2 separate regions of the Homo sapiens genome follow, and region 1 is linked to region 2. A link means that fine-mapping ties the variant in region 2 to the expression of a gene that starts in the linked region. Tissue or cell type: monocytes after LPS. Region 2 holds a variant in brackets; the other region holds the start of a gene. All regions are shown on one strand. Distances are between the middles of the regions.

What was found. PIP is the estimated chance that this variant, and not a neighbour inherited with it, causes the effect.
Region 1: it holds the start of SETD5, and the variant in region 2 is fine-mapped to the expression of SETD5 in monocytes after LPS (Quach 2016, PIP 0.95).

The regions. Positions count from the first base shown.
Region 1 is chr3:9,395,720-9,401,155 of GRCh38, forward strand. It overlaps SETD5 (SET domain containing 5), which reads left to right and starts at 1,896. Exons shown (of 23, transcript NM_001080517.3): 1 at 1,896-2,258. THUMPD3-AS1 (THUMPD3 antisense RNA 1) reads right to left here and starts at 904. Exons shown (of 4, transcript NR_132781.1): 1 at 841-904. RefSeq lists a silencer at 794-2,103 and an enhancer at 2,714-2,763.
Region 2 is chr3:9,418,177-9,424,211 of GRCh38, forward strand. The region is part of intron 1 of SETD5 (SET domain containing 5); the gene reads left to right. Among named protein-coding and RNA genes, the nearest start is that of SETD5, 24 kb to the left of the region's middle. The variant A/ATT (reference allele first, on the strand shown) is at 2,656.

The DNA of each region.
Region 1 (5,436 bases), 23 kb before region 2:
GACACCAGGCTACCCAAGATCAAGAGAGGGAGAAAGCTAGTGCTATGTCTGAATACTAGAGGAGCAAGTACAACAAATGGAAAATGGGATCAAGTATGAGTGAGAGTTGCTAAGATGCCTGGTAGGGATGCAAAGGGGTAGAGAGCCTGGGGAGAGAGGGTGAGGGAGGGAAGCACTGGTTTCTCAAGCAAAAGCTAAAATTTTTCTATTAAGATTTAACCTGATGCTACACTTTGGTGGTGCAGCAAGGGTCTCAAATGGTATAAAACTCAGGTGATCATGCTTTATGTCTGTCTCTAGAAAAATGCTCCAAAAATGATAAGTAGTGATAATCCGCAGTCTCGTTGCATAAAATCAGCCCCAGGTGAATGACTAAGCTCCATTTCCCTACCCCACCCTTATTACAATAACCTCGACACCAACTCTAGTCCGTGGGAAGATAAACTAATCGGAGTCGCCCCTCAAATCTTACAGCTGCTCACTCCCCTGCAGGGCAACGCCCAGGGACCAAGTTAGCCCCTTAAGCCTAGGCAAAAGAATCCCGCCCATAATCGAGAAGCGACTCGACATGGAGGCGATGACGAGATCACGCGAGGAGGAAAGGAGGGAGGGCTTCTTCCAGGCCCAGGGCGGTCCTTACAAGACGGGAGGCAGCAGAGAACTCCCATAAAGGTATTGCGGCACTCCCCTCCCCCTGCCCAGAAGGGTGCGGCCTTCTCTCCACCTCCTCCACCGCAGCTCCCTCAGGATTGCAGCTCGCGCCGGTTTTTGGAGAACAAGCGCCTCCCACCCACAAACCAGCCGGACCGACCCCCGCTCCTCCCCCACCCCCACGAGTGCCTGTAGCAGGTCGGGCTTGTCTCGCCCTTCAGGCGGTGGGAACCCGGGGCGGAGCCGCGGCCGCCGCCATCCAGAAGTCTCGGCCGGCAGCCCGCCCCCGCCTCCAGCGCGCGCTTCCTGCCACGTTGCGCAGGGGCGCGGGGCCAGACACTGCGGCGCTCGGCCTCGGGGAGGACCGTACCAACGCCCGCCTCCCCGCCACCCCCGCGCCCCGCGCAGTGGTTTCGCTCATGTGAGACTCGAGCCAGTAGCAAGGGCCCGGTCCCACAGCTTCGACAGCCAATCAGGTGTCGAAGACAAGCAGGCGGCGGGTAAACCGACTCCCCCGAAGGAAGGGGAGGGTGGGAGGACGCCCGCGCCAGAGCCGATTTCACTGACCCTCCCCTCCCGCCGCAGGAGGCCGGCCGCGCCCGCACACCCAGCATCTCTACACCCCACCTACCTACCCGCCCCACCCAGGGGGCAACGCGAGAGTCGCTAAGCGGCTGCGTACTCCCGACGGCGTAACTGACAGGAGCTTTACTCCAACCAGAATACGCCATTTGTGTTTTCACACACGGCGGGAGGAGAAACGGCCAATCGGCGACAAGAGGCTAGCCGGAAGCGCTCCTCCCTCTGCGAGAGCAATGGCTCCGTCCGGTTTCGAGCATTTTCCGCTCCCTTCTCCCTCCCCCTCCGGTTGCCGCAGGGCGGGCCTCCCTCCCGCCTGCATCCAGCCACCCCTTTCCCTCCCAACGTAACAAACATTATGTTCCCGACTTCCCACGGGAAAGGCAACCCCCGCAAGCCACCAGACGGCCCCCCTAGCCACCCATCCCCCCAGTGTACCGCACCTCCCCTCCCACCAGAGTTCCGCTCCCCTACCTAGCCGAGGCTCTCTGAGGAGCCGGAGCGCCGAAGCACAGCCTCTTCTCTAGGCGGCCCCGGCGGCTTCCGCTGATTGGCGGCGAGTGGGCCAATGGGTGCGGGGCGGTGGGCGGAGAGGCCAATGGCGCGGCGGGAGGGGGCGTGTCCCGGGTGCCCCTGGCGCCGGCGCTGGGAATCCCCGTGCGGTCAGTGGCGTTTCCGCTCGGGCAGCGGGCTGAGTGAGCTGCCGCCGCCGCCGCCGCCGCCGCCGCCGCCGCCGCTGCCGGGGGAGGGGCGGCCGCCGCCCGCCTGCGCTCAGAGACTCACGCAGCCCCAGTCCCGCCAGTCCGCCAACACAGTAGTGCCGGCCCCCCTCTTTCCCTGGCCCTGCCCCCCCTCCCCGCCTTTGGCTCGCTCCGCCTTTCTGCCCCCCACCCCCACCTCACGGGTACGGGCCATTCCCGGCCAGGAAACGCCGTGGCGCCGCGTTGGGCCTAACTCGAGTCCTGCCGCCTCCCGGGAGTGCCGTGCGCCGCAGCCCGGGCCCAGGCCCCGGCAGCGCCTGGGACAAGGTAAGGGTCCGACAGAAAAGAGACCGAACCTCACGATCGGGCCCCAGGGGAGGGAAGGGTCACCTCCTCCGTCTCCCCGCGCTCGCTCTCCTTGGGTCGTGGGCCTGGCCCTCCCCAAGCTCTTAGGAGGATGCTGCCACTTCTCACCCCCCTCGCCGCCTTGCACACACCGTTGCAACACCCCATTTTCCCAGGGAGAGAGATCCCCCTCTAATCTAGGCGACCCAACTCCCCCTTTCATGTTTTTCCTGGGTCAGGACGCTTCCCCTCCCCCAACGCCTCTTCACCCCCTTTCCTGGGAACTGCCTACTCCACGTTTACCTTTCCCTTGAGGAGAGGCCTCTTGCTGCCCTCCGCTCGAAATACACAGGCATACTTTTTTTCTCTCCCCGATCCCCCACTCCCTACCCCCGTTCTCGCGGCCTTGTGACAGACAACTCTGATCGCTCTGGGGGCCGCGATCTCCCCTCCGTAATCTTCCTGGACGCCTTCCCTCTCGTTTTCTGGCTTCCCACCTCAGATGGCTGCTTCCCAAAGGCATTACCTTCGCCACCCCCACCACACGTTCTCTGGCTCCCCGTGGCGTGTGCCACAGCGTGTCTGAGATAGCCTCGTTGAATGTGTAGGGTTCGAGCCTGGAGTTGAGCCAGATTGTGTCGTTTTACTTGCCTTGGGCGTGGAGAACGATCTTGTGAGAATATCTTCAAAGGCAGAAAAATATTCCCTTTATGAATTCTCTTTCCCTCTGCGTGTAAGTCGGGAATGTGAAGAGGAGTGTAGGAAAGAGCCCTGGTTCAAGTAGGTAAATCGCATGAGAGGGAAAGTTAAACTGTTGGGAAAGCCCCTTCTATGCTAATTGATTCTATAGAGTCCTTGCTTGTCTCACTTCTTGGGCGTCAGTGGTCTTTCTCTTGGATATGGATGCTGCAGTCAGCTCTGCTGGTCTGGGTCAGGGGTGCGTGTATGACCTGCATTTTCTGCTTTCTCATGTTACTTGTGCAATGTATTCACCGGTAACTCATTTCTTTCCCAGACCTCTGGGTTCCACTGGGCTTTGTCTATATTTAAGTTCATTTCTCCAGTTTCCTTCCTGCACATAGGTACTGAACGAATCCCCAAGTTCTGTGCTAATTACCTTCATCAGTTGACTAAACAAGTTTTTAGATGACATATTTGTGACCAAGGTCATATTTACATTTCTTTGTTGGACAGATGTTACATAGCTATACTTGTGATTGGGGAGGATCCAGCTGAGTGGAGTGTGCTGAGCTTTTTAGGAGAGTGTGTACTCCCTATTTGAAATTATTTTTTGGTTGTTAATTTTATATTATTAATGTTTTTAGGTCACAGAAAGTTCTAAGTGGTAATTTTAGATGTGTGGGATCTGAGCTAGGACTAAAGCAGAGAATACCCACGTAATCAGAGGTTTCTGGGCTCCATAGAGGACGTAGGGCTTTTTTTTTTCTATTGGATTTCTTCCAGTTTTCTCAGGATCATTAGTTCTCTTCTGTAGCCAAAAATTCTGGCCTGTTATGGGATTAGAGTCTTTAAGGTTTACTCAGACTGTCATTATGTGTAGAAAAATGAATTATGCCCTTTGGTAGGACATGACACAAGGCTCTGTTTCTAGCTGCAAATTTAAATTAGATTGTAGAGTGCTTGGGAAATTGGCTTTCAAAAGACCAAAGCTTAATCTTCACTCCTAAACTGCTGGCTTAATTAAAATGGATATTTAGAATTTGGTAAATGTTGATTTTTCTAATAAAAGGCCTTGGTTTAAAAGGGTGACCTTAGGATTGTTTCTTTCTTAAAAGCATAATTCCAGCCCTTCTGGCATGGAGCACTGGTCCAAAAAAAAAAAAAAAAAGTGTGTGTAAGGAGTGGGGGTGGGGTAAAGAGAAGGTTGTTCCTTTGGGTTGGATCACAGGGGTGAGTATACAAGGCAGCAGCAGCTGCTGGCTCTGGAGCTCTGGTTGCTACGTGAGAAGCTTGAGTAGTGCTGGCTGCTGTCTCCAGGGAAGGACAGCAGTGCAGCGTCCATTAATGCTGCTGGCTGCAGGGAGCAGCACTTAGGCGATGGCTGCTTCAGGACTAAGAAGAAACCTTGCTTTTCTGGGAATTTTCACTGCTGAGCTGGTTTGCTTTTTATTGGTGGGGAGATGGGAATTAGTAATTCATAATCTCCTACCCATTTATGGATATTGGCATCTGGAAACTGGATCATGGTTAAAGCCTTTCTTTTTTTGTTTGTTTGATTTGATTTTTGTTTTTTGGCAGATTTTTGTTTTTTATCTAGACATTTGTGCTTGGATAGGACTAAAAGTTCCATTAGAGTTTTAATTTTTCAATCAGTTTAAAAACCCAAGTAATAATTTTAAGAATCTTTCTGATAACCACAATAGGAAGAAAATAACAGGAATTTTTTCCTGCAGCTCACATATCATGCCTTCCTCCATCTCTTTAATCATAGAATCAATTCTTATTATTTTGTTATGTGTCTCCATCCTTTCGATTAGACCACATTTACCTTATAGACGATTTGCTAAACATTTTACTAAGCTTGAACTCTTAAACTCTAAAAAGGTGCCATTTTGGAGTGGTTTCTAAATAAATATTTTTAATTTGTATATTAGTAATAAACTTCTCCAGATTAGATATTTTCTTTGGAGTTTGACTTATAAGATTGATTCATTATATACATGTTGGATATAGCCTTCTGACATCACAAATATATGTCTTTGGCCATAATCCATCTGAAATGTAGGACAGACCAGAAGAAATATGCAGAAATCGAATAAGTCTAGTTCAGGATACTGAGAAGATGGCCTCTGAGCCCCTTAGGTGATCTCCCCTCCCCCACAACTCCTGAACATTAGGATGATCTCTGATTAAGCAAAACAGTCTGAGCGTGGAAAAACTTGAAGGAGAACCACCACCACCAATTATATGCAATACTGGACATATTCCTGTGTGCTGTTTTTCTTCCCCAAGACTCGTGTATCCTATACTTTTTTCTCTCAGAATTTTGATTTGTTCATTTTCGTGTAAATGTACTTAAATCTCACAAACATCTATAATTTGTAGTATCACTCTGGCATTTGTGGCAGAGAACCAAAAAGAATGGAAATGAGTTTTGTCATTCACAAATGTGGCTCACATTGTTTTCCCAGTAATAAAA
Region 2 (6,035 bases):
TGACCTTGTGATCCTCCCGCCTCGGCTTCCCAAAGTGCTAGAACAGAGTTTTGATAATTTGTTTGAAACGAAGCACTCAAATCTTCTAGTTTATTTGCATTTGCAGTCAGACCTCTACAGATGCCAGCTAGATTACAGATGGCTAGCATAAGTTTTTTTCATTACAGAAAGAAGAAATTTAGAGCTTAGTGCGGTCTATTAAAAGAATTAAAGGTTATGTCAAAGGACAACTATAAGAAAGTACTTTGGTTCTGAATATTGCTTCAGCTAGGGTTTATTTTGAAGCTCCTAGCCCAAATTTGTAGAAATGCAACTAAGATCTAATATTTAGTGTGTAAGAACTTTACAGGACATCCAGTCAGTAGTAGTCTTAAAAGTGAATCACATAGGCTGAAGCAGGCAGATCACCTGAGCCCAGGAGTTCAAGACCACCCTGGCCAACATGGTGAAACCCCGTCTCTACTAAAAATACAATAATCAGCTGGGTGTGGTGGTGGGCACCTATAATCCCAGCTACTCAGGAGGCTGAGACAAGAGAATTGCTTGAACCCGGGAGGTGGAGGTTGCAGTGAGCTGAGATCCTGCCATTGCACTCCAGCCTGAGCAACAAGAGCGAAACTCCGTCTCAAAAAAAAAAAAATGTGAATCACATACATAAACATTGGGAATTTGCAGATAACTTTCATTTTAGGGTTTCTAGAGCGCAGTGGTGTAATCTTGGCTCACTGCAACCTCCACCTCCTGGATTCAAGCGATTCTCCTGCCTCAGCCTCCCAAGTAGCTGGGATTACAGGTGTCCACCACTATGCCTGGCTGATTTTTGTATTTTTAGTAGAGACGGGGTTTCATCATCTTGGCCAGGCTGGTCTCAAACTCCTGACCTCAGGTGATCCACCCGCCTTGGCCTCCCAAAGTGCTGGGATTGCAGGCATGAGCCACCACACCCGGCCCACTTACAGGATTTTTCTCCCCCTTCATGGTTGTATAAATGCAGTACTTGGCACATAGGCAAACCTGAACAGTTTGCAAGTTGCCTACCCTTTTCTACTTTGGATAAAATAAACCTCTTAAAATAGCACTTAACATAGTAATATATGTATATTAATAGTAGTTACTTCATGTTTGTTGAATGAATGAATGAAAAAAGTAGCAAATCTACATAATATAAATCCCAAGACAGCCAGGAATTTTATCTGGACCTAATTGTCTTACATAGCACCAATTGGTACTTAATAAAAACAAGGCTGGGCATGGCAGTATGCGTCTGTGGTCCCAGCTACTTGGGAGGCTAAGGTGAGAGGATCGCTTGAGCCCAGGAGGTTGAGGTTGCGGTGAGCTGTGATTGCACCAAAGCACTCCAACCTGAGTGACAGACCCTGTCTCAAAAATAAAAATAAAAACAATTAGTTATAACTCAGATGTTGCTATCTAAGGTAAGTAGTAATTACTATAATAAACAAGCTATATATTAACATCTTAATTTTCTTTCCTCTGAACTTTACTACTGTAGGTGTGTAGTGAACTTCATACAAGTTAATCTTTTTGTAGCTCTATTTCTTCATTTCTGTTTGTTCATCGGTTGGAGAAATTTTGCTTAAATTAATGAAAGTAAAAATACAGATATTAATGGCTCATAAATGTGCACAACCCACTTCATCTATAGTAAGTAAAAGTGGCTCCCATTTTGGGGTTTGAAAATGAAGAAGATCTGAATTCACAGAGAGGAGGCACGTGTAGAGATATGAGAAGTTCTTTTCCTACTCTACTTTGGTACATTGGTCTCTAACACATGTTCTGAGCCTCAGAACACAGTAGAACAGAACCTTCAGAAAGTGTTGAGAGTATAACTCTTTAAAGAGGTTTAGTCAGTCTAAATTATTTGAGGGCATCATCTTTATTTGGTACTTAGAAGTCTAAAATCTTCCTGATTGTTGTTAAGGTTACAAAGAGTCTGTGTATTGTTGGTTAGTTGAGCAGTAAATACCTTTTTATCATTGTTAAATGGGTTGTAAATAAAATATTTTTCTTCAGTGTTAAAATAATTTATGATCACAATATTTAGATAATAATAATAATAATTCTGTTATTTATGATATGTAGTCTTATCCTACTGCCACTCCCCTCTTCTGCTCCACATACTACTAAGTATGACTTGGTCTCTATAATACGCACTAATTATGAAGTTTTTTACGGAGAAGGAAATTCTTAATATAGACTAGGATTTTTTTTCAGTTGTCTTTTAATGGCCTTTTATTCTAGTAAACTTAGATTTCTTATAGACATCGGTTTATTGTGCCGAGCTCAGTAGCTCCTAGAGGGAGTATAAATTTAGGCAAAGGAATCAAGGAATAAACTGGTATTGTAGAAGAGATGGGAGAAAAGGAAATTTTTATTTTTGCTTTAAATTACTAAATCATGATGTTTCCTGTCTCTCAGTGCTTACCCCAATCAGTGTTTCTCTCTTTTCTTTTTTCCTTTCAGTCCCGAACCCCTAAAATTCTTTGCTTGCATTAACTTGCTTCAGATTATAAGCCTAATTTTACTGTTCCAAATACATGAACTTTTCACTGTATCTCCAAGTGCTCTTTTAGAGTTCATCTCTTTGTTTTCCAGTAACTCATATTTGTTTCTTCTTATGCTTAACACTTCTCTCTC[A/ATT]TTTTTTTTTTTCATGTTTCTCACATTTTTTCTTTCCACATTATCTGCTGTAGCAAACTTGAAATATATGCTTTTGGAGAAGAGTAAAAACAGTGTTTAGCCATATTCAGGTTATTAGCAGCAGCTCCTCTTTCTTCACATATACTTAAAGGGACCAGAAAGTTATTTAAGCTCTTACTTGCTACAAATGCTGTTCCATGTGCTCCTATGAGTCAGCACAACAGGTATTTTTTTTTTTTTTATTGTACAGATGAGAAAACTGAGACTTTGAGACATTCTATGAATTGCCTGAGCTAGTTGGCAGCAGTGCCAGGATTCATAGAAATTTGGAGCAGGAAGACAACACAATGAAGATTTTACTTTGAGGAATTTAGGGTTCATCTATGTAAAGTGATTTTTCTGAGGTCACTAATTATGTTGTAGGCTAGAACTCAAGTCTCCTAACTCCTAATATAGTGCCTTTTTTTTCTTTTCTTTTTTTATTTTTTTAGGAGATGGGTCTCACTATGTTGCCCAGGCTGGTCTTAAACTCCTGGGCTCAAGCAATCCTCCTGCCTCAGCCTCCCAAAGTGCTAGGATTACAGGTGCAAGCCACCGCACCTGGCCTCTAAGAGTGCTTTTTCCTAGCATACTTTTCTTCTCCTAAGGTAAAAGGCTGTTTGTCATGGTACAGCTACGGTGATTTTACTTGAGATATTTGACTTTGAGATGGAGATGAAGATAAGTATATAATGCAGCTGCCACATTCATTCTCATACAAGGTAAAGTCATTCAAAAGATAAATCGAAGAACTATAGATGTATTTAAGAAGAAATTCAGCCTATATGTAACAACAAAATTTTGAATAATCAAGTTCAGAAATTGGATTTTTAAAAACTTATTAGCTACTTTAACCCTTTTGAAATATTCCCAAAAAGTGTTTTCTCTTCCTGAGTTAAATTTATTCATTTATTGACCTATTAAAGATTTTTTTAGTGCTTCAGAGCTATTCTGTATATCTGTTCATTTTCGTTATTTAGTAGTATATAGAAGTAATAGATTGGGCTGAATAGATTTATTTCAGGATATATCTTAGATATTTGTGTTTTTTCATGAATCCCAGTTTAAGGGTTATTGCTTTCAAAAGGAAGAAATTTGGTTAGTCATGACTTTTGGCTAGTTGAAGTTTAGAGAAGTGCTTTATACAGGATCTTTTATTTAGTGAGAAAAAAATAACTTTTTATAATTTTATAATACTGTGTGAAAAACCTGATACCAAAACTTCTGAAAAAGAAACCAGGCCTAGGAGATGAGGATTCTAGGGAAGATTATTAAATTGAGGATATTTTTAAGTTAGATTCTAAATTAGTAAATCGTGGCTAATAAGATGAAAATAATCTGATCCTTTAGTAAGATCTGAAGTAATATTGTTGCCCTGCAAAAAAGTGGTTGTTATCAGCATACCTTATATGTCAGCCTAAGCAAGATTAGATTTTCTCTTTTCTCTGATAGATGCCAATATTTAACATTGACTTTTATCTACTTTCAAAAATATCTATGAAATATACTTTCTGTCTCTGAATTAGAGTGTATGTATATTTGTGTTTACTTGAAATGTTATAGCTGGATGATAGATTTCAGAGCAGTTTTTATGCTTAGGGAAGCCACTGCCTCCCAAAAAGGTTTTCTTATGAGAATGAGGAAAATAAGTATAAATTTTCATATTTATGTTATTACTATTGATGTGCTTGGATAATTGTATTTATAAAAGTAAAAAATGTTCAGTATTTTATCTGAAATTTAATAATGGATATTGTACAGCCTAAGGAATTAAAAGAAAAAGGACCCTTTGAGAAAATGGCTTGTTCTTATGTATCTTAATATATACTGTGTTCACTTTATGTTTTGTCAGACACTGAAATTGAGGAAGAGAGATTTTGGCGTTCTGTTGGTTTATGGAGAGAGTTGATCAGAGATTGCTCCTTGGCTGAGTTGCTGTCTGCATAGGCTGTTAACAATTGTTTCTCTGGCAGCAGATCTTGTTCATCAGGATTGCATCATTTCTGGGAGAATGGCCAAGGTCCACAGCCTCAATACAAAGACTGTCTGAAGCATATGAGGCCTGTTCTCTTTCTGAAGCGGCACTCCTCTTCCTGCCAGTCCTCTTCACAGGATTACTGAAGCAGACTTGTTCTGAATTTCTTTCGTTGGATTGGTTGTTTATTGGACTTTTGTCTGCCAGCTGCTTCCGCCTCACCTGTCTGATGCAATTTCTTCTTCTGAAATCTGTTGGAATTGTTCATAAAACACTTTTTGTTTGTCTTCTCTGTGAGTGACCAGGGAGATCATACAGGTCTTGTGCTTTCAGCAAGTCATATAGAGAAGAGACTGTCAGAATGATGATACAGAGACTGTTGGCCATTTCTGAAACCAATTAAAAAGATGGGGTAATTAAGAAACATTTCTGGCATGTTCTATTTAACATCCTTTTCCCTAGAAACTGTATGTAAATGGCACCTCCTAAAGAGAGTACTCGGTACTACTGGAAGATACAGGCTGTGTCTGTTTCTGAATCCAAGAACTTACTAGTGTTCCTGTGGATTCTGATGGATTGTTCTGGAAATAGTTAAATTAATAATAAATTGAAACTGTGATGCATTCATTTACCCCCTACTGTACACTCACATCTATTTCGCTGTTTTCCTCCTTTCCTTTTTTTCTTTCTTATTTGCTATTGCTTCTTCCTTGATTTACTTTATTTCTTCCTTCCTTTTACTGTTACTTTGATACTTTTATTTCTCTAATTCTGGGTGTACTATTTTAAATCGTTTCTAAAAAATAGTTTATTTTCCAGTTTTTTAAAATTAGAAATCATAAAACATCAACATAAATGAAATGCATGCGTTCTAATGCTTGGTAACTGGAATCCTATGAATAGCTCTTTTCATGTTTATGATATGTTAATCTTTAAGGTGTTAATAACTCTGGCTAGCGTTAAATTTGACTTTTAGGAAAAAACACCAGAGACTTAAAGGATACTGATCATTTTCCCTTCCTTTTTGGAAGGTAGAAAATTAATTTAAGCGCCATTTTTTAAGCATGTTTCCATTTGACCGCAAATAGAACTGACTCCTTTTTATCACTCTTTTTTATAGTAGGACAAGAAACTAGATGGTGTGGAATGAAGGGAAAGAAAGGAGTAATAAATATGGACTTGTAATTTAATGGGTGATGATGGCCCCTTGTCTGGCTGGACAGTTGTCGGACATCGGGTTAAAGAAAGAACTCTGAATTTGAGAAGTGTTCAGTGAAGAAGGGAAGCACCTTTTAGGAGAGAGAAAAAGAAGGGATCCCTTGGAAAATGAGATAATTCTAATTTGAAGGAAGAGGAAAAATTAGCC